Homo sapiens: one gene and its partners. The main gene of each other region encodes a partner of the protein of the gene in region 4 in a complex. Each region holds a gene or a part of one and is shown on either strand. Other genes may lie near its edges.

Region 1 (7,310 bases), on a different chromosome or scaffold from region 4:
CAGCACCCAGAAGACAATCAATAAAGGGAAAAGAAGGATTATCATCTCAGTTGTACAAATGAGGAAACTGAGGCTCAGAGAGCTTAAATAAGTTCAGTCTCCTTTTCTTAAACTGCTATGAAGATGAAACAAGTGCTTTGCAAACAGCAGAGCACAGAGCGGGCTGAAGTTGTCACCACAGTCCCTCACCTGGTGGAGGCAAGCTACCCCTTGGGAAGTCCTGGAAGGAGAGCTCCTACTCTGTCTTTTTACTCCAGGTCCTCCCCACTGGCTGAGGAGAGGCCAAATGGTGAGCGGACTGGCCAGAGTGTCCACAGCTCAGCCACGTCCAGGCTGGCTCACTGGGGCCTGCCTCCTACTGCAGGTGTTGCTCTTTGCTGCCCCGGGGAAGCTCACAGGGTAGGGCTTCTGAGTGCAGTCTTGGTGGATGGATCAGGGAGTCCAACCATGGCTGTGTCCTCTGCTCCCGCTTTACCAGGAACACTCATGTTTGGGTTCCCCTGAACTCAGTCTCTACCTCTTAACTTGTTCTGAATGGGGAGGGGAAGGATATGACACCTTCAGAAACCCCAAAAGTCATGAAGGCGGTAAGGGAGGCCCAAGAGTCCAGCTTACCGCTGTGGGGGCCCAGTCCTGGCCGTACACAAAGCAGTACTTGCAGTAGAGGTCATCATACTCTGGAAACTGAAAAAAGCACAGACAGATTCTGTCGACTGGTATTCATGCTGAGGCCAATGCATTTGCTAGGCAGGTGCAGCCAAGGGGAATTCTGAACGTGAGACACCTGGGAGTGGGTCTAAGAGACGGCTGGAGATGTGTTCAGAGGAGAGGCTGAGGACCAAGAAGCGGGAGTCCACGGGAGACTCCCAGGTGCCACGGCCCCTGGCTTTTGCTCAGGCTCTGCCTTGTCTGATTTGTCCTTCCTACTTCATCCGGAAAACTCCTGCTCACCCTTCAAAACTTACCCTTCAGGGAGCCTGCTCTAACTCTCAAGCTGGTTTAAGGTCTCCTCTTGGCTCCCTTAGCCCCGTGCTTCCCTCCATAAAAGCAATGATTGCCTGTGTCTAAGTCTGTCAGTTCCTCTAGACCATGAGTAGAGAAGAGATTTAATGCCTTTCTGTGTCCCCACTGCCTGGCACAGGGCTGGGCACAGATAAGGTCTAAGGCAGGGGTCCTCAACCAGTCCGTGGCCTGTTAGGAACGGGTCCACACAGCAAGAGGTGAGGAGCAGGCGAGCAAGCAAAGCTTCAACTGTATTTACAGCTGCTCCCCATTGCTCGCATGACCACGGGAGCTCCACCTCCTTGTCAGATCAGTGGCGGCATTAGATTCTCATAGGAGCACGAACCCTACTGTGAACTGCACATGTGGGGGATCTAGGTTGCATGTTCCTTATGAGAATCTAACGCATGATGATCTGTCACTGTCTCCCATCACACCCAGATGGGACCATCTAGTTGCAGGAAAGCAAACTCAGGGCTCCCACTGATTCTACATTATGGTGAGTTGTATAATTATTTCATTATTATTTACAAGGTAATAATAGAAATAAAGTGCACAATAAATGTAATGTCCCCAAATCATCCCAAAACCATCCCTCGCCACCTGGTTTTCCACAAAACCAGTCCCTGGTGCCAAAAAGGTTGAGGACCACTGGTGTAAGGGAATGGTGCTGAAGTGAAAGGTCTGAGAACCCAGGAAGCCATCATATGCAAGGCTGGAGCTGAGGCCCTGAAAAGAGGGAGGTGCTGAGAGCAGAGCAGGGAGGAACAGTGTGACTGTCAGTGTGTGTGTGGCGGGGGGGTCGCTGATGCTGAGAGCACAGACACATGTGACTCAGCCCAGCCGAGAGCCCCTAATAGGAAAGGACAGGAGAGTGGGGAAAGACGGTCTTAGGCACTAGGCTAAGGCAGAGGCGGACAGGGTGGGAGCATGGAGTAGTATCCCTGATGAAATAGGAAGGCAGGAGACACCTACAAAGCATCAGGCCCTGTCAGAGCCTTACCCAAACCGTCTCAGTCAATCCTCACAATAATATTATAAAATAATAATAAACACCACCTCCAACAGCCTGGAAGGACAGTGTAGTGAAGCTTTGAGGTCAGATAGGCGTGGGTTCAATTCCCAGACAGGCCAGTTCCTTTGGTATATTTCCCCAGCTGTAAAATGGGGGTGTTAGTAGTGCCTATCTGGTAAGGCTGTAAGGGTGGACCAGTGCGGAGCACCGACTTTGGGACATATTGAGGACTTGGTGAGCGTTGGTTTATATTTACAATAAATGATTCCTCTAAAGTGTAGGGGGATGGGGAATAGCGTCCCTCGGGCCTAGCAGGCACACCTTCCTTGGGTCAATTCCAGGCCACCACCATTGTTGGATGGTTGGATTCGAACCCGAGTTCAAGGATCTGGGGATTCAGAACGCGGGACAGTAACTCCACACGGGACACAGCGCAAATGCTGGAAACTCGGCCAAGCCTCGGCTCCTCGCGTTAACCCCAGGAGGCTCCTGCCAGTGATCCAAGCAAGTGGGCATGACCCGTGCGAGGGCCCACAGGCTTGCCCGAGTGTGACCTCGGTACTAGCTCAACATCTCGAGGTCTGCTTCTATTCCTGCACATCGGGACTCAGGATCCGGGCAACCTCGCGCCAAGCTCTCCAATGCTGGCTCCCCTCCCCCGCCTAACCGAGAGGCTCAGAGGAATGACGTGGCTCTCCGGGGGCCACAGGGCAGCCCGGGGGGTTGCGGGAAGGGCCCCGGGGGACGCTGGGGGGCGGGCCCCGGCGGGGTCCACGGCCGCTCACCTGGGCGCTCTCCACCTGCCCGTTGACCATGAGTAGAAAGACGCTAGGACTCGCGGTCGCCATGGCAGGTCTGGGGGTGCCGGGGGGACCCACCTAGGCCGCGCGCGGTTGCTAAGAGACGCCGGCGTTGCCCTAGAAACAGACGGCGTAGCGCGCAGGACACGTTTCTTGGCAGCGACACCTTCGCGAAGGCCACGCGAGTGCGCGTGTGGCATGCGCAGGCGCAGTGAACGGGCGCCGTTATAAGGGGGCGGGGCACAAGGGGCGGGGATCCACGCCGAGGCTCCACCCCTCCTTAGGGCAGGTATGACCGAGAGCTGGGGCGGGAGCGTTGACCTGTCGGGTAAAGCCAGCCCTACCGCTCGACTCAGTTGCACGCGCAGGGAGTGTGTGTTCACTCTGACTCGGCCCGGCTCCCCGTCCCCGCCGAAGCGCAGAGGCGAATGAGAGCTGAGTCCTGGGGAGCAGCGCTCCGACTCACGCCCTCAGCAAGCCGAGTGTTTAAAATACATTCAGCCACTAGATGTCGCTGTGGCCCCACCGCGAGGACGCGGAGGGAGGCGCTGCAGAGCACGGGCGACGTGACCACAGCTGTCGGGGCTAACTCTGGAATGCCGGGTGCTCGGAGGAGCCTCCCCAGCTGGGGCCAAGCAGCGTCCAAGCAGGTGAAAAGGATGCGCCCCTGTGGCTTGGAGACGCTTGCCCTCGAAAAAGTTTATTAAACAAACTTGGGAGGGACCTCAAGAATCCTTACATCCAAGCCATCGCTCTTTAGTTCGAAGCTGGGGAAACTGAGGCCCGCAGCGGGCGGCGCCTGGCACCCCAATCAGCCAGCGCTCAGGGGAGTTGCTAGCCAAAATCCACGAATCTGTCAAGATACAGTCTTGTATCTTAGTGGCCTGTCACAGAGTAAGCACTTGGTAACTACTAACTTGTTGATAAATGAATAATTGAAGACATCTCCATTTTACAGAGGAGGAAACAGATTCAGATGGCAAAGGCAGGTAAGTAGCTAAGTCAGGATTCAAACCCAGGACTCCAGAGGCTAACAACCCTCACTGCCTCTGTCTTGTCCTGGGCCAGCCCCAACAGCATCTGTTGGCAGAGGTGTCAAAGGAGACGTTGGAGACATTATCTTGGATCCAGGAAATGAAGGGATTCACAGGTGTGTAGACTCCCGGGAGGCCAGGCTCCGAGCAGGGACCCCAGGTCATCACATTCTGCAGCTTCTAGCTTGGGAGCAGACTAGGGGAGTCCCATCAACCATCTGCACGAGGGAGGGAAGGAGCAGTCTCAGCCCAGCCTGCACCCACTGAACCACCCCCTGCCTAGTGAGCAAAGATATTTGATCAGGGGAGGGAGGCAGCGGGTAACCAGTTCACACATCTGACAAGAGCAGCTGGGGGAGGGGATGGGTGGGCTGGTGGCCCAAGTGCTGCACCCAGAGCCCAAGACAGGGCCCATTTCCCCTCCTGGAGAGGGGGTCATACTCCCTTCTTCCCCCGCTCTGTCCATCTCTTTCCAGTTAAAGTGCTTTCTCCCACACATTCTATCAGTCTCACCCAATTATTTCCTCCCTTTGGCCTTTGAGGCTCGGTGTTGCACACAAGTTAGTTTTCAGCAAAATGCTTGTAGTTATCGAATAACTGGGGGCTCCCAGTAGTTTAAGACCTGGCTATACCAAAGGTGGCCCCACATTCAAATAGGACATAATGGGGGAGTCTCCCCAAGGGGTGGGAAGTTCTAGGGTGGCCTTCAGGGGTACAAATAAGCCCGACCCCTGGGTGTTGGGGAATGGAAGACTCCAGGATAGGATGGGAGGGTGACCAGGCCTAACTTTAACAAGTCTAGTGGCATTAGAAGCGACTTTAGGAGAGGGGTCTCAGGGGCTTGCATAGGGGCTTGCATAGGGCCTGCTGGAATCCTTACCACCAGTTCAAGGGCCCAGTGGAGAGCCTGGTGTACTAGAAGTCCTTGGGCAGGCTGTCCTTCAGGTCAGGACAGTCAGGTTGGAGGAGAAGGTAGTTTCTGCAGATGCTGACACACAGCGATCTCAGCAGGACACTCTGCAGCTCTTGGGGTGGGATGTAGGGATCTGCAATGGGGTGGGGCAGACCCTCAGCCCAGCTGACATCCAGCCGATCTGCACCAGTCCAGCCATGCTGGTTGTTAACATATATTGCTGAGCTTCCCTGCCTGTGCCTGTGCCAAGTCTCTCCACCCCCAGATGCCTTCCTGGGCTCCTAGACATTCCTCGCTCCCACCTCACTCTTAGTACAGCTCTGTCCTCTGGTACACTCCCACGCAGTCCCCTCAGGGAAGCTTCCAGCACATTGGGCAGGCGGGGCTGTCAGCCATTGGGCAGGGGTGAGGCTGGAAGCTGGCTTGAGCAGAGCAGGTGTCAGCGCCAGCCCTCTTCCCTGCATGCCTATGGCCATGGTGCTGCCGGGCAGCTGGCCAGAGCCCCTGCAGGGTCCCAAGCTCCACCCTGGCCATCTGCCTCCCCCAGTCTCTCAACCATCCCAGGCTTCTGCTCCCATCCTTACTGAAATCGGGTTCAAACCCCTGGCCCCAGCAGAGCTGTCTCAGGAAGAGGGAACAGTGGGATTGAGTGGCCAGGGGGACGGCCTGCACAGCGCTGGTGAGCGACGGAGGCCTTGCCCCTTGCCAGTTGTGCCAGGACCAGGCTACCAAACCCAGAGCCCTCGGGCCCTGCTGAGGACAAGAGCAGCTCCCCCATGGTAACCTGATCTCACAAGAGTCCATCTGCAGTCGATCTGGACCCAAGGTCACACTGAAGTGGGACCAAGGCCAACTGTGGAGAGAGGAGGTGAAGGGGAGGTGGAGAGCTGGAGAGGCTGGGGGCCACCCTCCTGGAGCCCCTCTCCACCACCCCTCCTGGCTGTGCACCCACCTGTCAAAGCAGTTGGCGCCTGTGAGCACCCACTCTTGGGAGATGAGGGCCCCCTCACAGCGGCACCAGGTGTCCAGGAAGATGCTGGCCTGGCCAAGCCATTTGTCTGGGCCCTTCTTGCTGGAGGCCTCAGCCAGCCTGGACCCTGCACCTCAGGAGACTGAAGCCTCAGAGCTCAGCTCCGGGTCCCAGGGCCTTGCAGGTCTACCATGCATCTCTTTCCATCCAGCCCTGCGATCTCTGCAGCCCAGCTTCCACCCCTCACCCCTCCAGCTCAAAATCAGACTGCCTGCAGTGGAATCCTATGTGACTCAGGGAAAGTCCTTTAACCTCTCGGAGCCTCGGTTTCCTCATCACACCCAGGGGGTTGTTGTGAGGATTAAATGTGATAATATATGTCAAAGTTCCATACATTTGTAGCTATTCTTTTTTTTTTTTTAATTAAAAAGTTTATGGGCACATAGTAGGTGTATACATTGCAGCTATTCTTGTTGCTGAAGTCATTCCTGGGGTGCTCCTGCTTTTTCATGCCTCCTGGTTTGCACATGCTGTTCCTTCTACCTAGCTCATCATCTCCTACCTATCCGCCCAGAGAACTCCTATGTAGCCTTCAGAGCCCACTCTTGTGAAGTCTTCCTTGAACGCCTCTCCCCTTGGCCCCACAGTCTGCTCCCCACTTCCCACCCAGAAGCTCATTATAAGTGGGTGTCCGGCTCTGCTTGCTTTTCTCTTTAGACAGGGAGCTCACTCATCTCTAAGGAAGCTGGGCCTCCTTGAGGACAGCCCTCCATCTGCTCTGCCCTGGTCATCGGGGTCCACCCTCAGCACCTTCAAGGGGTGGGGAGCCCTGGGGTGCACACTAGGGGCAGGCATCCTGCATACAGACTTGGCGCTGGGGTCTCCAGATCCTCCTCCCAGGAGCTTGTCCTGGGTCCTGGGGCAGGGGACTTCTTAGAGTCCTGCTCTGCCCCGTCTCAGGTAAGAGGCAGAGAGGGCAGCTGGCTGAGACCAACAGTAACAATAATAATCCCATGTGCCCTCTCTTTACACCCCCACGAAGTCCTGAGCCCCTGTGATTCTGGGCTCCTCACAGTGACCCCCCAGACCAGTGCTCCTAGCCCCCTTTTACAGATGGGGAAGTCGAGGCTCAGAGACAAACCGACTTCCCAAGATCACAGTGAGTTGGAAGCAGAGTTGGGATTCAAATCAGGGTCCCTGTGACTCCAAGTCCCCAAATCATTTCTCTCAAAGGCCTTATAGGTCTTTCCTTCTGTCTTTGCCTCTTGGCTCTTCAGCGGAGGGGCCACACTTGGAACACCGGTTGCTTGAAATGCCTGGTGCAGGCACTCGGCTGAATTTCACAAATGGTGCAAAGTCAATACCCTTTGTGGCCTGTCCCTGACGATTCCTTGGGCCTCACCTCACCCTTCCCCTCAGGCTTGAAGTACTGTATGCCTGCGGTTCTAGGTGGGCAGGTCCATGCAAACCAGAAGCTACAGGGGCTGAGAGGCCAAAGAGAGAGGCAGACAAATCTGGTTTCTCAGAAAGAAGCATTTAATAGAGGCACATAAACAGAAGCCATGTCTAGGGCGGT
Region 2 (7,025 bases), on a different chromosome or scaffold from region 4:
TAGCTATTGTTCTTGTCACCTTCTTTCTGCTACAGAAAGAAGGATGTGGTCAATATTTGATGATAATCAGTAATTAGGCAGAGTTATAAAGAAGCAATGTTACTTAGAAGTAATATTACCTGTATAATTCCTTACCTGTATAATTCCAATGGCTAGCCAAAGAGCAGCAGACACTGCATATCTCAAAATGCAGCTATAAGGAGCTATGTAGCTAGGTGGGTTTCTAGAAAGACTAGAAGATGAGTCCATTAATGCTAAGTTCTTGAATCCCACAACCTGGAGTAAAAAGGAAAAGTAGTAATTTAAACGGACATGGATAAAGAAAACTACTCTAGACTGAAAACAGAAAACCTCTCCCTACTCACCTTGAAAAACTAAAATATCTAAGTTTGTATAAACAGTAGAAAATCTAGATAAAAATAATTATTATATAGTATTTTAACTACAAAGTATTTATTACACAATATTTAGTTAGCTCATTTGGCATTCTTCTCAATATGACTAAGGGCCAAATATAACCTTATTGTCATACACACTGACAAGACTAAAAATTTAATTAAAAGGATAAAACTTTCATCAGTAAACTACCAATGAGTGAAACCAACAAGTAGTATTTCATGAGTATTTGACATGTGCCAGGCACTGTACTAAACATTTTTATACTTTAAAACAGTATATTACAAAATGTCTTCTAAAGGACATAAGTTCTTGAAAAAAGAATCTATGTTTAAATACTTTTGGTCCATCCATTACACTCACCTCCATGCCTCCCACCCTTGTAGAATAAAGGCTCTGAGAAGTTTTACAGTAAAAGGTGCTACATGATTATACTGAATCCAATATTTTCCAAACTTACTTGACCATAAAACTTTTTCACATAACACCTTTTAAAGCTGAGGAAACTCTTAAACACACACACACACACACACACACACACACACACACACACACTACTTTAGTACAAAAAGAAAAGATGTGAGGTAACAGATAAACTAGCTTGATTTAGCCATTCCACAATGAATACATATATCAAAACACTGTATTGTAAACTATAAACATATGTAATTTTTATCTGTCCATTTAAGAAAAACCAAAATACCACTTCAAGTGAACTTTGGAAGTCTTGTTCATATTATTTTAAAGCCCTAGGGATACAAACATTCTTCTACTAGTTTTATAAAAGGAAAGGAAGGGAAAGGGGAAAGAGAATGGAAAGAAAGAAGAAAAAAGAGGGAAGGCAGACAGACAGACCTAAGAGTTAATGATTTATATTCAATCTTAATTAAGCAGATAATTCCTGAGAAAACCTATTCCCATATAAACTGTTTCCATGTTCAGTCTTATACTCAGTACTGAATACTTCCTTTAATAATTCCAACCAAATCCATGAAATAACTGCATATGTATCACAAACATGTTGTGTTTTGTTCAGTGTAGCCCCAGCTCTTAGCACAGAACATAGTCTACAGTAAGTGTTCAATACAAATTTGTTGAAAAATATCAAACTTATAATAGTGATTCTAATGCAGGGGAGAATATGGATCGGGGGTAGGGAGCTTTTTCAAAATATAGATACCTGGAGTTACCTCAAAGCTACTAAATCAACACATAGTCTCTAAGGGTGAGCCTGAGCATAGGTATTTTACAAAAGATCCCCAAGGGATTCTGATACAAACCAGTGGTTTTAAAGCTACTCCTTACACCTAGAGCAGTCAAACACACAGAGACAGAAAGTATTATAGAATGGTGGTTGCCTGGGGTTAGGTGTAGCAGGGAATGGGTACAGAGTTGTTTAAGGGGTATAGAGTTTCAGTTTTGCAAGATGAAGAGTTCTAAGATGAATGGTGATGATGATTTTGCGTGGCAATGTGAATGTACGTAACACTACTTTTTGTTTGTTTGTTTTTTTCTGAGATGGAGTTTTGCTCTTTCTGCCCAGGCTGGAGTTCAATGGTGCAATCTCGGCTCACTGTAACCTCCGCCTCCCGGGTTCAAGCAATTCTCCTGCCTCAGCCTCCCGAGCAGCTGGGATTATAGGCATGTGCCGCCATGCCCAGCTAATTTTGTATTTTTTGGTAGAGACGGGGTTTCTCCATGTTGGCCAGGCTGGTCTTGAACTTCCAACCTCAGGTGATCCGCCTGCCTCAGCCTCCCAAAGTGTTGGGATTACAGGCATGAGCCACTGTGCCTGGCCAACTTAACACTATTAAACTCTACACTTAAAAATGCTTAAGATGGTAAACTTAAAAAAAGAATTGTGGTAAAATACGTAACATAAAGGTACTCCTTTTTAATGGCTTCACAACAATATTTCAACCTTTAGAGAAATCTTCCACTGTCATGAAAACTTAGTTGGAATTATATTAGTTTAATATTTATAAGGTACATGTAAGTCGCATATAATCACATCAAACAGTTTATACCTCCAAAAAGAAGAGGACAGTAAGTACTTGAAAGAGTGAATTAATTTTTCTCACAGTCTGAATTTCATTCCATTCATTTGCTACAAAATATGTTCTCCATATGCTTACAGGAACAGTGGCACTTCGTACACCACCCTCACCTGGTCAGGAAAATAAAATGAGTAAAAGAGTTTTACCTCCTTTGCTCTGCAAGGGTAGCAAAAGAATTTTGGTACAAATATTTTTTATTTCAGTTACCTTCAACAGCTTTAAGAACCTTTCCTTTAGGTCGCTCCCAATCAATAAAGAATACATCTATTGTAATCTGGGATATGAGCTTATGCAAAAATTGTAGTGCCTGAGAATGACATATAATAAAACACCTGAAAAAGTACCAGCGTTAAGTCTGCTTATAAAACCAATATTGACTCTTTAAGAAACATACTGTTATCACAAGAACATATAATTTTATGAGTGAATTCACATGAAGTTATAATACCACTAAGGAATCATTAGAAGCTCATCAGATAACCTGGAATCATCAAATTCACAGAATTTTCATATACATCTTAATTTACCTTCCCTTTTTCTTTCTTTCTTTAAAATAGGAATATGAAAAGAGGAGACATTTTTCCTCCTCCTCACATAGGGACTTATATAATTGACTCTTTCCCAAAGATTCTAGAAGCACACTTTGTTTTGTAGATCAGCTGACTTCTTTATAAGTAAAGATATTTTCAACTATAGTTTGTTTTTCCTAATTAAAGTTTTCGAATGCTCTTACTGTCTTTTTTTTCTATTTCTGCTATTCAGATTTCTGATTTTTAAAGAATGTGCTGTTGAAACACATCTTTCTTATTTATACAAGCAATATGTTTAAACTGAGGCATTCTTTCTAGTTGCTGCATTATTCATCAAATAAAGGATAAAAATCTAAGTATGAGATACTTCACCTCAAGAAGCTCCCAGTCAGTGGAAAAAGCAGACACTTAACACTCACAGTAAAATAGGATAAGGACTACCAACAGGCATATAAAGAGATTCACCTACATTGATGGAGAACACTGAGTTGGGGATTGGGGGGCCATAGGAAGAAAGGAGCAAAGGAATCTGGAGACAGACAAAACAACTTTTAAGATCTCAACACTTTATCCAGAGTGGTACCTTTTACCCTTGATTAATGGAGACAAAATTCATGCCTGAAGACATTTTGTCCCATTGTGAATGTATCATCAGACTTTAAAGAAAGTTATATACTGAAATATCATTTTATCAAATAAGCCATACAAATTCATGGCTTCTTTGAAAAAAATATTTAAGGCAGAGTTTCAGACTGAGCATCTACTATAAATAAAAGTAAATTTACCACATAAAATAATTAATGCTTTCTTTCAAAACCAAAGTGAATTTCACGCCAAAGATTTTTGAAAGCATTTTAATTTTAAAGACTTGTTAGTTCATTAGCAGGCCTTTTAAATTTGGTAACCTGTCCTTTAAAACTTACCTTCAGAGCAAAGGCACATCCAACATAAGTGACAAAACGTTCTTCCTGAATTGGCATTGGCAGCAAAACAGACACAGACTTCTGTGCCTATAATAAAAATTACTTGATTAAATATTATCACACACAGTTTTTTTTGTTTGTTTGTTTGTTTTTTGTTTTCGTTTTTGTTTTTTTTTGGGAAAGGAGGGTCTCAGTATGCTGCCCGGGCAGGACTTGATTCTGGACTCACAGGATCCTCCCACCTAAGTCTTCCAATTGAACAAGGTTTTTACTAAGCACAATTTATAAACCAAAGAAAGCATAAAAGAGGAAGATAGTGATGTAATCGATAAGCTCAGCACACTCAAGGAATGGGGAGTTGGGAACTTTTCTTAATACTGTTGATCAAAAATTCTCTCAAATAAAAATAGTTCCTTTATAAAGAAAGCTTTTCAACTATTCAGATATTGGCAGTTGGGGAAAATTCAGAAACTCACTCACTTTGAAGAAAATAAGCCAGTAAAGACCTGTTCCCACTGTGATGATAAAGAAAACATTGGCCAGATCACCAGCATAGTACACCAAGAATTTCACAACTGTCTGCAATTTAAAAAAAAGAATTACAGCTGTTTAAGACTCCATGTATATACCACTTTTAGTAACACTACCACTTTTATACATCATCCACTCCATTTCTTAAGCCTGAAGCCTTGTTTCACATATCCCCATATGATCCAGCTATAAAGACCACCTGCTTCCTCCTCCTTGCTACCTTTTGGCTCCTTACCTTTCTGGCCGTTCCTGGTAGCCTCTTCTTTCAACTCTTCTCATCTTTCACTATCTAAGAAAATTGAACTGCTTCCTAATTTTCTCTTAGTTGGGAATCCTCCCCTCTAATCTCTCCTCCACACTACCACCAGAGTTAGTTTTCTAAGATGTAAATTGGATTGTGTCACTCCCCTTGTTAAAAATGAACAACTCCTCATTGCAATATAAATTCCTGATCCACAAGGTCTTTCACAATATGGGCCAAAATTAACTTTTTAGCCTCATCTGCCAGTTCCAGCCATGTAGTCAATGACTAACCACTCCATACGTTCATCTCAAATACTTTCTGGAATAAAATGGGCATTGTTTTACCAAATATTCTTCTCTTCCCCTCTCTGGTAAGTTCTCATGATTTCTGAGAGCACAGACTATGTCTGTCTTTGCTCACTAACACATTCTCCAGCTCCTGGTAGAGTGCCAGACACTTAGACAATAGAGCCTCAGTGACTATTATAGAATGAACAGATAATCCCACTTAAAGTTCATTTCTCTGGGAAGCCTTTCTGGACTATCCCAAGTAGTAAATCAAGTACCCCTGCTGATTCCTTAGCCCACTGGCTTTGGAATCAGAAAGATACTTTGGTTAAAGCTACCATGTAACCTTTCTCATGTTCTTCATCAACAAAACGGAAATACCTATTACTGAGTTGCAAAAATCAAGTGAGTAGAAAATTTAACCTTTACCTCAATTTCATCACGTGTAAAACGCAAATAATAATAATAACCTAACTTCAAAGAGCTACTGTGCGGATTCAGAAAATTACATACATAAAGCTTTAAAAAGTGCCTGGTACATGGTAAATATTTTTTAAATGTTTAATAAAAATAAAAGGTTAACCATGAAGTGAAAGTATAAAGTTAATAGAATAAAATGTGGACTATCTTTGTGATCTTGATATAGGGACGGTTTTCCTAAACAAGATCCCAAAAGCACGTATCATAACATGAAAAAAAATATTCAGATATGATGATATCAAAACCAAAAGTTTCTGGCCAGGCGTGGTGGCTCATGCCTGTAATCCCAGCACTTTGGGAGGCTGAGGTGGGCGGATCATGAGGCCAGGAGTTCAAGACCAGCCTGAACAACATGGTGAAACCCCGTCTCTACTAAAAATACAAAAATTAGCCAGGCATGGTGGTGTGCGCCTGTAATTCCAGCTACTCAGGAGGCTGAGGCAGGAGAATTGCTTGAACCCGGGAGGCAGAGGTTGCAAGTGAACCAAGATTGTGCCTCTGCACTCCAGCCTCAGCGACAGAGTGAGACTCCGTCTCAAAAAAACAACAACAAAAAAAAACAAAAATGAAAACAAAAACAAACCTGAAAGTTTCTGTTAAACAAAGGACTACATGGATAAAAATAACGGATGGGTCACATATTTATTTGGTCATATATTTCAACATCAGAAACCAAAAAGGGGTTACTATTTAGAAAATACAAAAAAAAATTCTTCAAATAAACAATAAAAACTGGAAACATAATAGAGAAATGGGCAAGGGATATAAACAGGCAGTTCACAGAAGGAGAAACCCAAACGATTAAAATGTATATGAAGAGTACAGAGAAATGAAAATGAAATCAACAATGACATACTACTATATGCCATGAGGTTGGCAAAAAATGAAAAGGTTGGAAAAATATCAAGTGTTGCCAAGTATGTGCAGAAATAAGAAGAGCATTGCTGGTGGGAATATAGACTGGCATACAGTATGGTGGGAAGAAAATGAGGTACACATATACCATATGACCCAGCAATACTTACCCTAATTACATATCCCAGAAAAATTCAATGCAACTTTTTTACTTATTCTCTAGCTGTGTCTTATGAGAAGGATCCAGAATGGTCAAAAGATAAAAATATTCTTAAAAAACTCCTGAGATTATACCTGTAAATCAATCATGGGACTCCCAATGCGCCTCTTCCATCCTGCTGTCTTCAAAAGAGATGCTAAAACAGCTAGCCCACCCAATACACCCAAAGCAATCTAAAAAACAAAAGAACAATTGAGAATTTATGTAATTTCTGTCATCGGTGTTCAAAAACACTGTGAACAAGTAAGGAAGTGCTCAAAAAAATGGTGGGGTGGGAAATGTTGAAAGGACACAGGAGTCAGCCGGGCACAGTGGCTCACACCTGTAATCCCAGCACTTTGGGAGGCCGAGGCAGGCGGATCATGAGGTCAGGAGATCAAGACCATCCTGGCTAACACGGTGAAACCCGTCTCTACTAAAAATACAAAAAATTAGCTGGGCATGGTGGTGGGTGCCTGTAGTCCCAGCTACTGGGGAGGCTGAGGCAGGAGAATGGCATGAA
Region 3 (6,932 bases), on a different chromosome or scaffold from region 4:
TGATAGGCCATCTACGTACAGATCTATTTTGGACTCTTTTTTTTGTTTTTTGCTTTGAGACAGAGTCTTGCTGCGTCGCCAGGCTGGTGTGCAGTGGTGTGATCTCAGCTCACTGCAACCTCCACCTCCTGGGTTCAAGCGAGTCTCCTGCCTCAGCCTCTGGAGTAGCTGGGACTACAGGTGCATGCCGCCACGCCCAGTTAATTTTTGTATTTTTAGTAGAGACAGGGTTTCACCATGTTGGCAAGGATGGTTTCAATCTCCTAATCTCTTGATCTGCCCGCCTCAGCCTCCCAAAGTGCTGGGATTACAGGCGTGATCTTTTTCAAAATTCTTTTAACCATGTAACTCCTTTGCATTTCCATATAGATGTTAAGAGTCAGCTTGTCAATTCTACAAAGAAACCTGGTGGGATTTTTACTGAGATTTAGATCATCTTGAGGATAATTACCTTAATGATATAGATTTTTCCAATCCATGGACATGTTATAGTACTCTACTTTATCCAGGTCTTCATCTTACCAATGTTTTGACATTTTAAGTGTACAAGGCTTGCACATATTTTGTTAATTTTATGTTTTGTGCTTTTGGATGTTATTTTAAATGGCTGTGATTTTTAAAATTCAAGTTCAAATGGTTTGTTCCTAGTATATAGAAATACCATTGATTTTTGTATATTGACCTTGTATTCTATAACCCTATTAGTTCTGCTGGCATTTTTGTAGATTCTTTAGGATTGTTTAGGTTCATATTGTATGTAGATATACACAATTTTACTTCTTCCTTTTAAATTATGTTCACTGCAGCGTCGACCTCCTCGGCCCACATGATCCTCCCACCTCAGCCTCCCAAGTAGCTGGGGCCACAGGCATGCACCACCAAACCTGGCTAATTTTTAAATTTTTTATAAATAAAAAATATGTTGCCCCGGTGGGTCTAAACTCCTGGGTCTAAACTCCACTGTGTCTGGCCCAAGCCATTCTTGATATCATGGTACAAACTCCTTTGAGAATCTGATAAAAGCTATGAACTCTTTCTAGAAAAATCCCCCATTCAGAATTCTAGGGAAAGGATTCATAGACTTCTTGAATCCCACTCATGGATCTCAGTTTTAAGAATCCTGGTTCATGCAAATCAAGACCACGATGAGATACCATCTCACACCAGTCAGAATGGCAATTACTAAAACGTCAGGAAGCAATAGATGCTGGCGAGGCTGTGGAGAAATAGGAACACTTTTACACTGTTGGTGGGAATATAAATTAGTTCAACCATTGTGGAAGACAGTGTGCGGATTCCTCAAGGATCTAGAACCAGAAATATCATTTGACCCAGCAATCTCATTACTGGGTATATACCCAAAGAAATATAAGCCAGTCTACTATAAAGACACATGCACACGTATGTTTACTGGAGCACTAGTTACAATGTCAAAGACATGGTACCAACCCAAATGCCCATCAGTGATAGACTGGATAAAGAAAATGTGGTACATATACACCATGTAATACTATGCAGCCATAAAAAGGAATGAGATCATGTCCTTTGGAGGGACATGGATGAAGCTGGAAGCCATCATCCTCAGCAAACTAACACAGGAACAGAAAACCAAACACTGCATGTTGTCATTCATAAGTGGGAGTTGAACAATGAGAACACATGGACGCAGGGAGGGGAACACCACACACTGGGGCCTGTCGCAAAGTCTGGGGCAGGGGGAGGGAGAGCATTAGGACAAATAACTAATGCATTCAGGGCTTAAAATCTAGGTGATGGGTTGATAGGTGCAGCAAACCACCATGGCACATGTATACTTATGTAACAAACCTGCATGTTCTGTACATGTATTCCGGAATTTAAAGTAAAAAAAAAAAAAAGGACATTCTGACACATGCTACAATATGGATTAGGTATCTAAAACAGTCAAATTTCATAGAGAGAAAATGTAGAATGGTAGTTGCCAGGGGCTGGAAGAGGGGAATGAGGAGTTACTATTTAATGGGAACAGAGTTTCAATTTTCAAAAATAAGAAAGTAGTGGCGATGGATGGTGATGATGGTTGAAAAACAAGGTAAATGTACTTAAGACCAATAAGCTGAATATTTAAACATAAAAGGATCCTGATTCATAGAAATCAGTAAACAAAACATGAAAACTTAGTTTACCTATATAAAAATAATACTAATTATGGTTGCTTACACAAATAGCTTATATTTCCATAACGTGGTATAGAAACTATTTTGCATATAATTATGTCAGATTAACTTTGTTATAAGTTAGATTTGGTTATAAAATTAAACTAGAATCAGGCTCCACTTTATCAGCTGTTGTGCATGTGGCACAGATTGCCTACTCACAATTTTAAAAGGAAACATTGGAGAGACAATTTCTTAGGAGCTAGAAAGGTGCCTTTTGTTTTATGTTAAAATTATTTCCGGCCGGGCGCGGTGGCTCACGCCTGTAATCCCAGCACTTTGGGAGGCCGAGGCGGGCGGATCACGAGGTCAGGAGATCGAGACCATCCCGGCTAAAACGGTGAAACCCCGTCTCTACTAAAAATACAAAAAATTAGCCGGGCGTAGTGGCGGGCGCCTGTAGTCCCGGCTACTTGGGAGGCTGAGGCAGGAGAATGGCGTGAACCCGGGAGGCGGAGCTTGCAGTGAGCCGAGATCCCGCCACTGCACTCCAGCCTGGGCGACAGAGCGAGACTCCGTCTCAAAAAAAAAAAAAAAAAAATTATTATTTCCCAGGTTGGAAATGTGTGCGTTTATGGAATAAATTGGTAGGTGAGAGGCTGTGAGGCAAACTGGAAGGTGGTTAGGCTTCAAAAGACAGAAGAACTTGGGCTAGAATCCCAGTACTTTTACCACTTGCAAGCTAGCAAGTCCTTTAAACCCTGGCCTTCACGAACTTCATTTTTAAAGTGAATAAAAGTACCTTTTTGAGAGGCTTCTACAAGGATTTGGGACAATGCAAACAAAAGTGCTCAAGCTGCACTAGATCCTAAATAAATGGTGCTATTTATGGTGAGTCGGTGTTACACAACTAGTGGCTATGGCACCCAGAGCTTCCAATGCCAAATCATCAAACTGGCATGAGATTCCCGAGTTCAGGGGACAATTGCTTACTTTGTTGGAGGAGGACTAGATGTGAACAAGGCTGATAAATGTTGACATTCCCAAAGTGCCGGGACGCCAGACGTGAGGTTACAGCATGTCCTTCCTTTGCTAGTACAACGAAGCATGACTTGTGAATGTCACTTTTTTGGCTTTTCAGGAAGCCAGTGCAGTAACAAAGTGGCTTAATGATCCAAAACTAACATACACAAGGTAAGAATCAGTTCAATAATAACATCGTTTCCTTCCTTACTGTTGACTTCCTTGTTTTTTCTTTCTTTGCTCAGTGAATATCAACACAAAGACTAATAAATCTTCTGACACTTTTTTTGTCTTCCAAGAATATATTTTCTTGTCTGGCTAAGGGCCATCACCTTCCCTGACTCCTTTGGGAATAATGGGTGCATTTCTTACAGTCACATCACCCGATTTTCAGGCCAAAGTTTTCACGCGTTGGGTGGAAGGCAGTGTGGCATGGTGGAAAAGGTAGAGGGCGAAGACTCAGGCCACCTGGTCCCCGTCATCATTTCTGCATCTATCTGTCTATATGAAGTGGGCTGATGGCTGTGCCAGTTTCCTCATTTGCACAGCGCACGAGGTCCCGCTTTCGGTGAGCTTTTATCGCATACATGGTAAGCGGTGATCGGTAGGACCCCGGAGCCCTCTTGGGCGTTCGGCTTGGGCTGCACTTGCACTGTGTGGCCAACTGCGACCGTGGCGCCGTGACGGGAACGGCGGGTTGCGCGCGCAGCACCTCCGTCGCCTCCCGATCCAGCGTCTCCGTTGCCAGGAAAACAGAGCGGCGCGCTTTCCGGCGCAGTCGCGGCGCGTCGCAGCTGTCATGGCGGAGACCGTCTGGAGCACTGACACCGGGGAGGCAGTGTATCGCTCCCGGGACCCCGTGCGCAACTTGCGCCTCCGGTAGTCGCACCGCCCCAGCCCCGAGGCCCCATGCTTTTGTGTCCTTAGATCATTCCAACCTGAGCTCGGTGTTCTGAGGTCCCCACTTTCTGCTTACAATCCCGACCACTTCTCCGGGCTCCCCACTTCTTTCACTATCCGTACCCCCATCCACTCACAGCCTCTAAGAACCCCTTACAGACCTACCCAAGTCCATTCACGTCTTTGTTGCTCCCAGTTTCTCAAAGCCCTGTGCCCCCAGTACACCCTCTCCCCTTCATTCTTCCCCATAGGACGGCGCACCCACCCACCTCCTCTCCGTTGTCTGCACCCAGCACACCTTGGCAACCCTACCTCCTCTGTTTTGTTTCCCCCATCCTTGCTTTGTGTTCATCTCCTGGTTGCGTGTCTGGTAACGAATATTTTGGGCTTTTCTTGACAGAGTCCACCTGCAAAGAATCACATCAAGCAACTTTCTTCATTATCAGCCTGCTGCCGAGCTCGGGAAGGACCTCATAGACTTGGCCACTTTTAGGCCTCAGCCAACTGCCAGTGGGTGTTACGGTGGTGATGTGCCATCTAATACTAATTATGATACTAATCAGAATTGTGGCCAAATGTAGTGAGATAACAAATACTATACTTCTGATATGTTATAGAGTTGCCCGGCAACCTACATTCTATTTGTGGCTTTTTTTTTTTTTTTTTTTTTTTTTTTTTTTTTGAGACGGAGTCTTGCTCTTTCCCCCAGGCTGAAGTGCAGTGTCGCTATCTCCGCTCACTGCAAGCTCCGCCTCCCGGGTTCACGCGATTCTCCTGCCTCAGCCTCCCGAGTAGCTGGGACTACAGGCGCCCGCCACCACGCCCGGCTAATTTTTTGTATTTTCAGTAGAGGCGGGGTTTCACCGTGTTAGCCAGGATTGTCTCGATCTCCTGACCTCGTGATCCGCCCGCCTTGGCCTCCCAAAGTGCTGGGATTACAGGCGTGAGCCACCGCGCCCGTCCTATTTGTGGCATTTTTAAAAGAGAAAACGTGCCCCAAACCCTAAATACACATATAAACACTTTTAAAAACAATTTTTAAACTGGAGACTGCTTGCAAAATCTGCATATGATGTGCATGTATAGATCAACTGTGTTCTTGTGGTTTTCCTTATCTGGGAAACCAAAAGAATGAGGAGGAGAGGACAGAGTGGTTGTTGTCAGGTCACTAGTCTGTTTGCTTTTATTGTTTCTCTTTCTGTTCAGAGCTGTTCCTGGGCAAGAGTGTGGGCTCACAGGTTGTGAAACGTGTCTCTGAAAAAGGCATACCCAAGAGTGTATTAGATTAGATTTGTTTTCTTTGTTTTTGTTTTCGTTTTGTTTTGAGACAGAATCTCATTCTTCTGCTCAGGCTGGAGTGCAGTGGTATGATCATAGCTCACTGTAAACCTTGGTCTCCCAGGCTCAAGCCATCCTCCTGCCTCAGCCTCCCAACTAGCTGGGACTACAGACTCACACTCAGTTTATTTTTTTTTAAAGTTTTAGTAGAGAAAAGGTCTTGCTATGTTGTCCAGGCTGGTTTCAAATTCCTGGGCCCAAGTGATCCTCCCACCTTAGCCTCCCAAAATGTTGGGATTACAGGCGTGAGTCACTGCATTCAGCCAGATTTGGTTCTGTTAAAAAATCATTTATTTGCCTTCACTGTCCTCTCCTTACACTTGGTCTCCTAAATTTCAGTGTTTGTGATTCTACATATATGGCTTTAGAAATAGTAAAGATAAAAATGCCAGGGTTATTTTCTAGCAAATGCAGACAGTTGGGACTGAGGAAGGGCTGGCTATTCAGCTTATATCTAAATTTCAGTTTCTTATATCCAGTTAGATTAGATATTTCCTGGAGCGGGCTGAGCGCCGTGGCCCACGCCTGTAATCCCAGCACTTTGGGAGACCAAGGCAGGTGGATCACCTGAGGTCGGGAATTCAAGATCAGCCTGGCTAACATGGCAAAACTCCATCTCTACTGATAATACAAAAATTAGCTGGGTTGGTGGTGTGTGCCTGTAATCCCAGCTACTTGGGAGGCTGAGGCAGGAGAATCGCTTGAACCCAGGAAGAGGAGGTTGCAGTGAGCTGAAACAGTGCCACTGCACTCCAGCTTGGGTGACAGAGTGAGACTCCATCCCCCCCAGAAAAAAATTCCTGGGGGGTATTTTCTTTTATTCAAATTAGAGTCATGACTAAGACTTCCTGGGTTCTAATCTTGGCTTCTACTCATACTAACTCTCATATACAGCCTCTCTAGCATTTCTCTAGGTTGAGTGCTTACTAAATTGCTGAATTCCAGCTAGTTTTTGTGGCAAATATAAGAATAGGGACTTTGGTTATAATAAACCACAGAACAAGAAGTGGTGCTGGTTTGGCTCAAGCATTTGATTCACTCTGTTGTCTTTGGAGGTGGACACCGCCCAGAGGAAGACGAAGAGGAGGAGATTGTGATTGGGTGGCAGGAGAAGCTCTTTAGCCAGGTGAGCCAGTGTCTCTTGTCTTCTCTGTCTATTCCATCTGGTCTACCTCCACATGGCTGGTGATACATATTGCCAAAGTGATTTCCAGACAGGTTGTAACAGTTTATACTTTCCCCTGTTGTGTTTAAAGGGCATTGTAACATAGGGATTGCCACTACTCAGTTTTGTGATTCTGGGTGAGGAACTTTTCATCTCTGGGCTATATGCCATCTGTAATAGCAGACTTGGATTAGACTATCAGTCTGGTTCCTTTTAGCTCTAATGTTCTTGGTTCCCCTGCCATTCATTAGTTTAGTGTTGGTTATGAAAACATGTCAGATAGCATCAGTTCTGTAGAACTGATTTGATTAAACAGTTACAGAAGCAAAAGTTTGATGTATTATAATGATGTACACATCTCTGTTTCCTTA
Region 4 (7,430 bases):
AATTAGCATGTTAAAGGGAAATAAAGCATCTGAAATTCTATTGTCTTCTCTACAAACCTCATCACAGGGTACAAAAAATAGAGGAAGGAAAATGTAAAAGCAGCTAAGAAAATAGAGAGGCAAGGAGATAACCTAGAGTGAATGAGGGGGCAGATAATAAAGATGAAATGCAAAAGTACATGAGAGCTCTCTAATGAACAACTCTGGTCATTGCAAACTGAAAAAAAAAAAAAACCTGTGAAACATTTTAGTAACTAAAAAAAGTTCTCTATAAGTTAATAAATGCTTTATATGGAAGAAAAAAATAGAAGTAGAAAATGAAAAATGTAATGGGATTTTCTTTTTTCCTCATTCTTTCCTGATCATTTCCTTTAAATGAGTTTCTAAGGAAATCAAATGACACCGAAATTTATTTTTTATATGAACACTGTTGCTAAGAAAAGATAAATCAATACTGCCTGGTTTTAATATGCAGTTTGCCATCATCTTATGCACTGGTACTTGTTAATATATTCCTACTGGCAACATCAAAATAGCTATGATTTACTGCACACTTATTTTGTGCTAACTATAGACATGTTCTCTTTAGTCCTCACAATAACATGTCTGGCTTAGTAGTATGTGCCCCAATTTGCGTATGAGTAAACTGAGGCTCTGACAATTTACATGATTTTTCCAAAGTTATAATTATTAAATGTCACATTCAGAACTTGATCCCAAGACTCTGTGATTCCTGAGTCCTCCCTCACTCCACTCTACCCCTCCATCTCACCATTTATTCTTGCTTTTGCAATGGCATCAATAATTATTCTGTGCTTTCCAGAATAGTGGGCTATTCTGGAAATATTTACAGTTGAAAGCTGTGAAGCATTGCACTGGTGAGAAAAGGCTTAGGCTACATTAAGCCAATGATTTATTTTACTCAGTGCAGAAAACCAGATATATTTTTTCAAGGAAAGTACTGACACCTTCATCTGAATAAATGGACTATTCCTAAGAGTCATCAGTGGGTCAGAGCCATACCTGGAGGTTGAGATACAACGCATCTCAACTCCATATTGGTTGCTTAAAAAATCATACAATATATATGCCCTACTCCAGGATGGCAAAAACATGGGTTTATAGGAAGAGTGGTCCACATATTTCTTTGCCAAGGAATATGTGGACCTGAGTTCCAACTTCAGCTTTATTTATTAGCTGTGTGATCTTGGAACAATGCCCTCCCTTCTCTGAGACACGTTTTTTTTTTTTTTGTCTGCAACATTGCAATCATACTTCCTACCTTGAAGGATGATTAATTTATAAGGGCTAAATGATGAAATGTGTGTAGTAAAATGCCTAGCACAGGCTGGGCTCTCAATATTGGTAGGTTTTGTTACTAAGAAAAAGTGATTGTGGGGAGGGAAAGTGGAAAAAAGGAATGAGGAGGGAAAAGAGCTTGGGGGATAGAAGAGGAGTCATGAGAAAGACCTTAGGTGATGTTCAAGCCCACCCACCTTCAGCTCCAATCTTCAACCCCCAGCTACCATAACTCATGTTTCATGTCTCCCTCCCTTCAGCCAGGCCCAGGGCAGTTGCCTTGCTGTTTCCATTTATGGTGCTTCTGAAACCTCCTGCACTTCTACCCATGAGTATTTTCTTCCTCACACCCTGAGAACATTTTTCTGTTCCCTCCTGGAGCTTGGACACCTGGGGAGGTGCCACATACATTGTTTTGGAATACATTATCTTATTCTACAAGTTATTCCAGCTGCAGTTTCCCTTAGCATAAGGTTAGTGACCAATAGCTTTATAGAATCATTTAATCAGCTCGATATAATGTACACTGGCCTTGAAGAGTACACATGAGTACCATATTTGAGCTGTGTTACGTGATATATGACCAGTGCATTTACATGATGTGCTAAGTACTGGAAGCCCCTCCCTGGATGTCATCCCACTGTCCTCTCAGTGTTTTTATAAATCTCTTATGGCACTTAGCTCATTGTACTCTTATCATGTGTTTATAGGTCTGTTTTCCCAGCAAATTCTGAGCTTCTGACCTAGTCTAATTTATGTTTGCACACTCTAAACTTAAATTCATTGCCTGGTGCATTGTTGATGCTCCATAAATGTTTGAATGAATGACTCTATAAGTGAGCTCTAGGATATATATATATATATATATATATATATATATATATATATATATAGAGAGAGAGAGAGAGAGAGAGAGAGAGAGAGAGAGAGAGATTTCATGCTGGTGCTGAATTTATTTGCAGAAAAGGTTATATGAAAATGCAGTAGCAAACATATTTCTTATTTGACTTTATTAGCTTTTCATACCACCTCTTTGCAATGAAGGGAAACAAACAATCAGCTTAAGTTGTAGCCAGTACATTTTCTTGAAGTCTTTGGAAAGCACAGCAACTCTTAGCACTGTGGTTAGTAGCCCTTTCTCTGTCTCATACCAAGAAAAGTGTATTTTGCAGTAATTAGTGCTTCTCCCCTTAAGCCAGTTTGAACTAAAAGGCCCATAAATGCAACACGCAGCTAATGTTTCACAGAGCTTTGGTCAGAGAGCATTTTCACTCAGGACTTGTGATGAACTGGACTTACATTTCCTGCAAACCAGATACCAGATAGCAGCTCAAATCAAAGCTGCCAAGTAATGGTCTATGTTCCCATTTCAGAAAGTAAAAACATAAATAACGATGAGAGCCCCTAAATTTACAATTCATTAAATCCAGTCTCACGGTATCCTGGAGAGGCTGAACTTCAAGCCGGGTAACTGAAAACAGGAAATCACTGTTGCAGCCTAAAGTCCGGTTAGGGACTGATTTACCTTAAGAAACTTTACAAAAGGCACTTTGCAGATTCTGCATTCTAGGATGGAAGTGGAGAGAGACGGTGCTGTTGAATCTTTTAAAAGGGTCCGGAGGGAAAGGCTGAGTGTTGGAGATGCCCCTGGGCTCCTCCCTGGGAAGCTGCAGCCATGTCTTGGAGCAAAAACACCAGCTTAGCAACCCGTTCCTAAGGAAGGTCACTCGGTAGCTTTTTTTTTTTTCCTTTAAAGTGACAGGCTACTTCCAGTAGTGGAGTACAAGCATGCTGGGTAAGCAGAGACGCACAGCCTGCAGTAGAAGGACGGAGAGAAATCAACATGAGCAGCACTGGAAATTAGGTCAAGCCTTAAGAGCTGCCCCTCCCTCATGTCATCCGGTCGTCTTGCATTTCCAATGAAGAACAGGCTCAGAGGTGGGGGGATTTAGAATCTTAAAAGGTCGTCATTACATGGTGAAGCTGTCTAACGTGGCAGCAGCAAAAGCTCTGTGGAGGTGCTGCAGAGTACCAACAAATGTTGCACTTGAGTGTTTTCCAGTTAAAAGTGGAAGGTTGAACGCACAAGTTTAATCTTTGCCTATTCTCTGAATCCCACTGCAATTCCTGAAAACGGATATAAATGTTATGGCTCAAAAAAGTTGGAAAAAAAAAAAGAGGGAGAGGTAGGAGGCAAAGTAGCTGGAAGAGTAATAGAATGAATGGAGCCAAGGAAACACACTCCAATAGACTAGTGTGTATGTGCACATGTGTTTGTGTGTATTTGTGTCTGTGTGTATGGTGTGTGTATGTTTGTGTGTATGTGTATTGACTGTATCTTCTTATTTTCTGTATTCTTGATGCTCTGGCATTTGGAGCCTTGATCCTGGAGAAACTGATTCTCCTATGTTAGCTAATTTCTAGAGATAGCAAATGATTCCCCTGAAATATGCAAAGTCTCCTTTGATATACAAGCCAACCAATCCAGAGCCCACACAACCATCTCCATTATCAAACTCTCACACACTAAGCCAATATTCCTCCTGTCCTAAGTCACCCCAGGTCCAGATACCAGACCACTATAGCCCAGAGAACACCACGATTATTCAAGCTATCCACTCCTAAATTTATGCAGCACCCTACCCTGCTTCACCTATTCCTTCCTGGGAAAACCCTAGTAAAGGCTCTGTGCTGTACTCTGCTGTCTCCGTTCTGCCTTCTGACCAACATTGGTTCTTCCCTATGTGGTCCTGTGTGGCATGCCATGTTCTATGATTTGAATGTGTCTTCCCAAAAGCATGTATTGGAAACTTAATCCCTAACACAATGGTGTCGGGAGGTGGCACCTAATGAGAGGCAATTAGGCTGTAGGGCTCTGCCCTCATAAATGCATTAATGCCATTATTGCAGGAGTGGATTCCTTATAAAAGAATGAATTTGGCCTCGTTTTCTCTCTTTCTCTTTCTTGCTCTCATGTTTTCTTGCCTTGCACCATAGGATGGTGCAGCAAGAAGACCCTTGCAGGATGCCAGCCCCTTGATCTTGGACTTCCCAGCCACCAGAACTGTGAAAAATAAATTTCTGTTCATTATAAATTGCCCAGTCTGTGTATTCTGTTACAACAACAGAAAACGAACCAAGACACCATGCTTCTTGTTTCTAGGGATCTGTTAAGTATAAACTTCTTCTTTTGTGCCAATCATGTTTGTGTCTGTGTGTCTTACCATACCTAATTAAAACAAATCCAGAGTACATTTTTTGACACAGCCTGCATGCATGTGTATGTGTCAATGTATTTGTGTTTGTGTCTCTGTACGTGTATGTATGTGTGTGTGTGTCTGTGTATGATGGGGTGTGCACGTAGGCATGAATATGAGGAAATGAGCTGATTTACTGTGCCAGGATTTGGGGCAGCAGTGTTATAGCTGAATTGTGTTCTCTCTCATCCCCAAAGATGCTGAAGTCCTAACCTCAGTATCTCAGAATGGGACCTTATTTGGAGATAGGGTATTTACAGAGGTAATCACATTAAAATGAAGTCATTAGAGTGAGATCTAATCCAAGATGATTGCGTCCTTACAAAAGGGGAAATTTGGATTCAGAGACAGACAAAATAGAAGAAAGGCAACGTGAAGACATGGGGAGAGCACCATCTCCAAGCCAGGGAACACTCAAGGCTATCAGCAGCCAGGAGAGAGGCCTGGAACAGACTGTCTCTTGAAGCTTCACAAAGAATCAACCCTGCCACACCTTGATTTCAAATTTCTAGTCTCCTGAATTGTTAGAAAATTTCTGCTGTTTAAGCCACTCAGTGTGTGGTACTTTGTTACAACAGCATCAGGAAACTAATACAACCATAGACTAAGGAAGGTGGGGAGAGATACGGGGCTAAAAATGCAGGAAGATTTGAAAGTCTGTATATTAAGGGATTGATCCTCAGGATCCTTTTTCTTGGCAGCCTGAAAAATGCCCATTCCTCAGGCATAATTTCCGTCCTCCACATCTGCCTCATCTGCTGCTGCCCAAAGGAGACTGGCGGTTTCTTTTCTAGGGAAGTTAAACCAGAGACTCTCTGGTCTCAAGTTCCCAGGTACTGCAGCAAGTGAGTGTGTCTCAGGATTGAAAACTGTATATGAAATGAAGATGTTGCAGGGCCCTTTCTGAACCTTTCTCAAGAACTTAGACAATCAAGAACATGCCATTGGCTCCCCCATCCTACCTCTACCTGCACAAAACTGGAGAAAGTAGAAAATTATTTTCTGGAAAAACTGAATGATTATAAAGCACAGACCCTACATACTGACATTTCTGGATCCTCCAATGACAAAGCTAGCATATTGCCCTTACAGAAAAGCATTACAAAAAACATTAAAGGATCTCAGGCTAGGAAATTTAATGCTTGTAGTTATAAAAAGAGAGAACCATGAAAATGGAAAAGTATAATTTACCAAAGGAGTAATACAAGAACAACTGTATGAAATAATGTATTTTCCAATTGAAGGGGACAATCTACTATCTCGTGCTGGTAAAAGAAGACAATAAGAAAACTTGTCTGTCTTGGCTTGTATTCTGCATGTGGTGAGAAAAATATGAAGAATTTACAACCATTGGTTTGCACCATGCAGTTTGTCTTATTTATGCTCCTTATATATTTTAGGAGGCCCCTAAGTGATAACTTTTAAAAAGTGGCCTCTGTCTACTGTATCCCCGTGGGGTGCCAGGCAGAAGTTATTACAAAACTTTTCTGGAGGAACACACCTTCAATTGGACAATTCAGGATGTCCACAAATAAACACAGAGGAAGATGAGCTCACAACCCAAAATTAGACAACAGAAGAGAAACACTCAAGAGTCCACAGACAAACCAGAGGACACTATTAGATACTCAAGAGTTTCTTGCAATACAATAATCAGATGGAGAGTGGAAAAATAACAATGACCAAATATTCAAGAAGATACAAGGAGGATTTGAAAATATGAAAGAAGAGTGAGACACTATCAAAAAGATCAGACAAATTCAAAAAGTAACCAGATAGAACTTTTAGAAATAAATAATACAGTCACAAATTTAGATAAAAGTCAAAGAATGTGCTAAACTGTAGATGAGAGAGCTGAAGAGATGCAAAAGATAGGTTTAAAAAATTGAAATGTGGCACAGAGATATTGAAAATAGGAAAGAGTAGGTAAAAGATACAGGGAGAAATTGATGAGGTCCACCATATCCAGTACAGTACCAGAAGGAGAGGAGAGAGAAAGAAGTTGAATGCTCTGTCTTACAACTGAGGGATCTCGGTCAACTTTCTTAACCTTTCTAGGTTTCAGTTTCCTTCTCTGTAGGAAACTGAGGTTTAATAATAGTAACTATTCCAGAGAGAGTTGTTAGGAAATTTGTTAAGTTAATAATTGTGAAGCACTTAGGACAGTCCTGGCACATAGTAAATGTTGCAAGGTTTATTAAGTGAAGAAAAATATGAATGTTTACCGTAAGAGATTATCTACTTGAAATGGTCAGCTGCCATGAGAGGAAGGACTTGTTCACCACTCTTTTGCTAATTAACCGTCTGATTATTACCTCCCTGATATTTTAAAAGTCTCATGGTCTGCCAACAGAGCTAGCTGGGCACGTCCTCTTTGATCTTTAATACTGAACTAATTCATAAGAATCATACAACTTCTTAAGTTCCAAAAATATTAAAAAGTATCATTGCAAAACACCATTACTTGCAAAAGTTCTTATGTAAGCAAAATAAATGAATCTAGCAAATTTATTTTAAATCATAACACAAAAATCTCATTCTTTTGGTTAAGTGTTCCTAGTTGGCTAAAGAGTTTTTCATCAAGAATAAATGTTGAATCACATTATCACAAGCTTTTTTCTACATCTTTTGAGATAATTAAATATTATTTTTATTCTTTCATCTATTAGTGTAGAGAATTGCATTATCAGGCATTTTAATGTCAAATTGTGCTTGCATTCCTGGGATACACTCAATTTTGTCAAGATACTTCAAAAATTAATATTGGATTTAATTACCACTTTCTAGAAATTTTTGCATTTATGTTCTTAGCTGAGATCAGCCTTGTATTGTTCTTGTCTCATTTTAGGATAAAGGATAGTCTAACCTCAAAAA

Evidence for each region.
Region 1: CC2D2A (region 4) and B9D1 share a complex: the UniProt entries of both Homo sapiens proteins name them as parts of the tectonic-like complex.
Region 2: CC2D2A (region 4) and TMEM67 share a complex: the UniProt entries of both Homo sapiens proteins name them as parts of the tectonic-like complex.
Region 3: CC2D2A (region 4) and MKS1 share a complex: the UniProt entries of both Homo sapiens proteins name them as parts of the tectonic-like complex.

What each region holds. Positions count from the first base shown.
Region 1 is NC_000017.11:19,359,705-19,367,014, forward strand, and holds the start of B9D1 (B9 domain-containing protein 1), read right to left. Parts: upstream 3,020-7,310; 5' UTR 2,866-3,019; coding exon 2,803-2,865; intron 685-2,802; coding exon 616-684; intron 1-615. UniProt on the Homo sapiens protein: Component of the tectonic-like complex, a complex localized at the transition zone of primary cilia and acting as a barrier that prevents diffusion of transmembrane proteins between the cilia and plasma membranes.
Region 2 is NC_000008.11:93,792,869-93,799,893, reverse strand, and holds part of TMEM67 (meckelin isoform 1 precursor), read right to left. Parts: intron 6,697-7,025; coding exon 6,598-6,696; intron 4,486-6,597; coding exon 4,387-4,485; intron 3,994-4,386; coding exon 3,907-3,993; intron 2,761-3,906; coding exon 2,661-2,760; intron 2,564-2,660; coding exon 2,424-2,563; intron 277-2,423; coding exon 136-276; intron 1-135. UniProt on the Homo sapiens protein: Required for ciliary structure and function. Part of the tectonic-like complex which is required for tissue-specific ciliogenesis and may regulate ciliary membrane composition.
Region 3 is NC_000017.11:58,216,256-58,223,187, reverse strand, and holds the start of MKS1 (tectonic-like complex member MKS1), read left to right. Parts: upstream 1-3,932; 5' UTR 3,933-3,957; coding exon 3,958-4,037; intron 4,038-4,458; coding exon 4,459-4,568; intron 4,569-6,442; coding exon of another isoform or gene 6,443-6,451; coding exon 6,452-6,522; intron 6,523-6,932. UniProt on the Homo sapiens protein: Component of the tectonic-like complex, a complex localized at the transition zone of primary cilia and acting as a barrier that prevents diffusion of transmembrane proteins between the cilia and plasma membranes.
Region 4 is NC_000004.12:15,465,452-15,472,881, reverse strand, and holds the start of CC2D2A (coiled-coil and C2 domain-containing protein 2A), read right to left. Parts: upstream 3,001-7,430; 5' UTR 2,825-3,000; intron 1-2,824. UniProt on the Homo sapiens protein: Component of the tectonic-like complex, a complex localized at the transition zone of primary cilia and acting as a barrier that prevents diffusion of transmembrane proteins between the cilia and plasma membranes.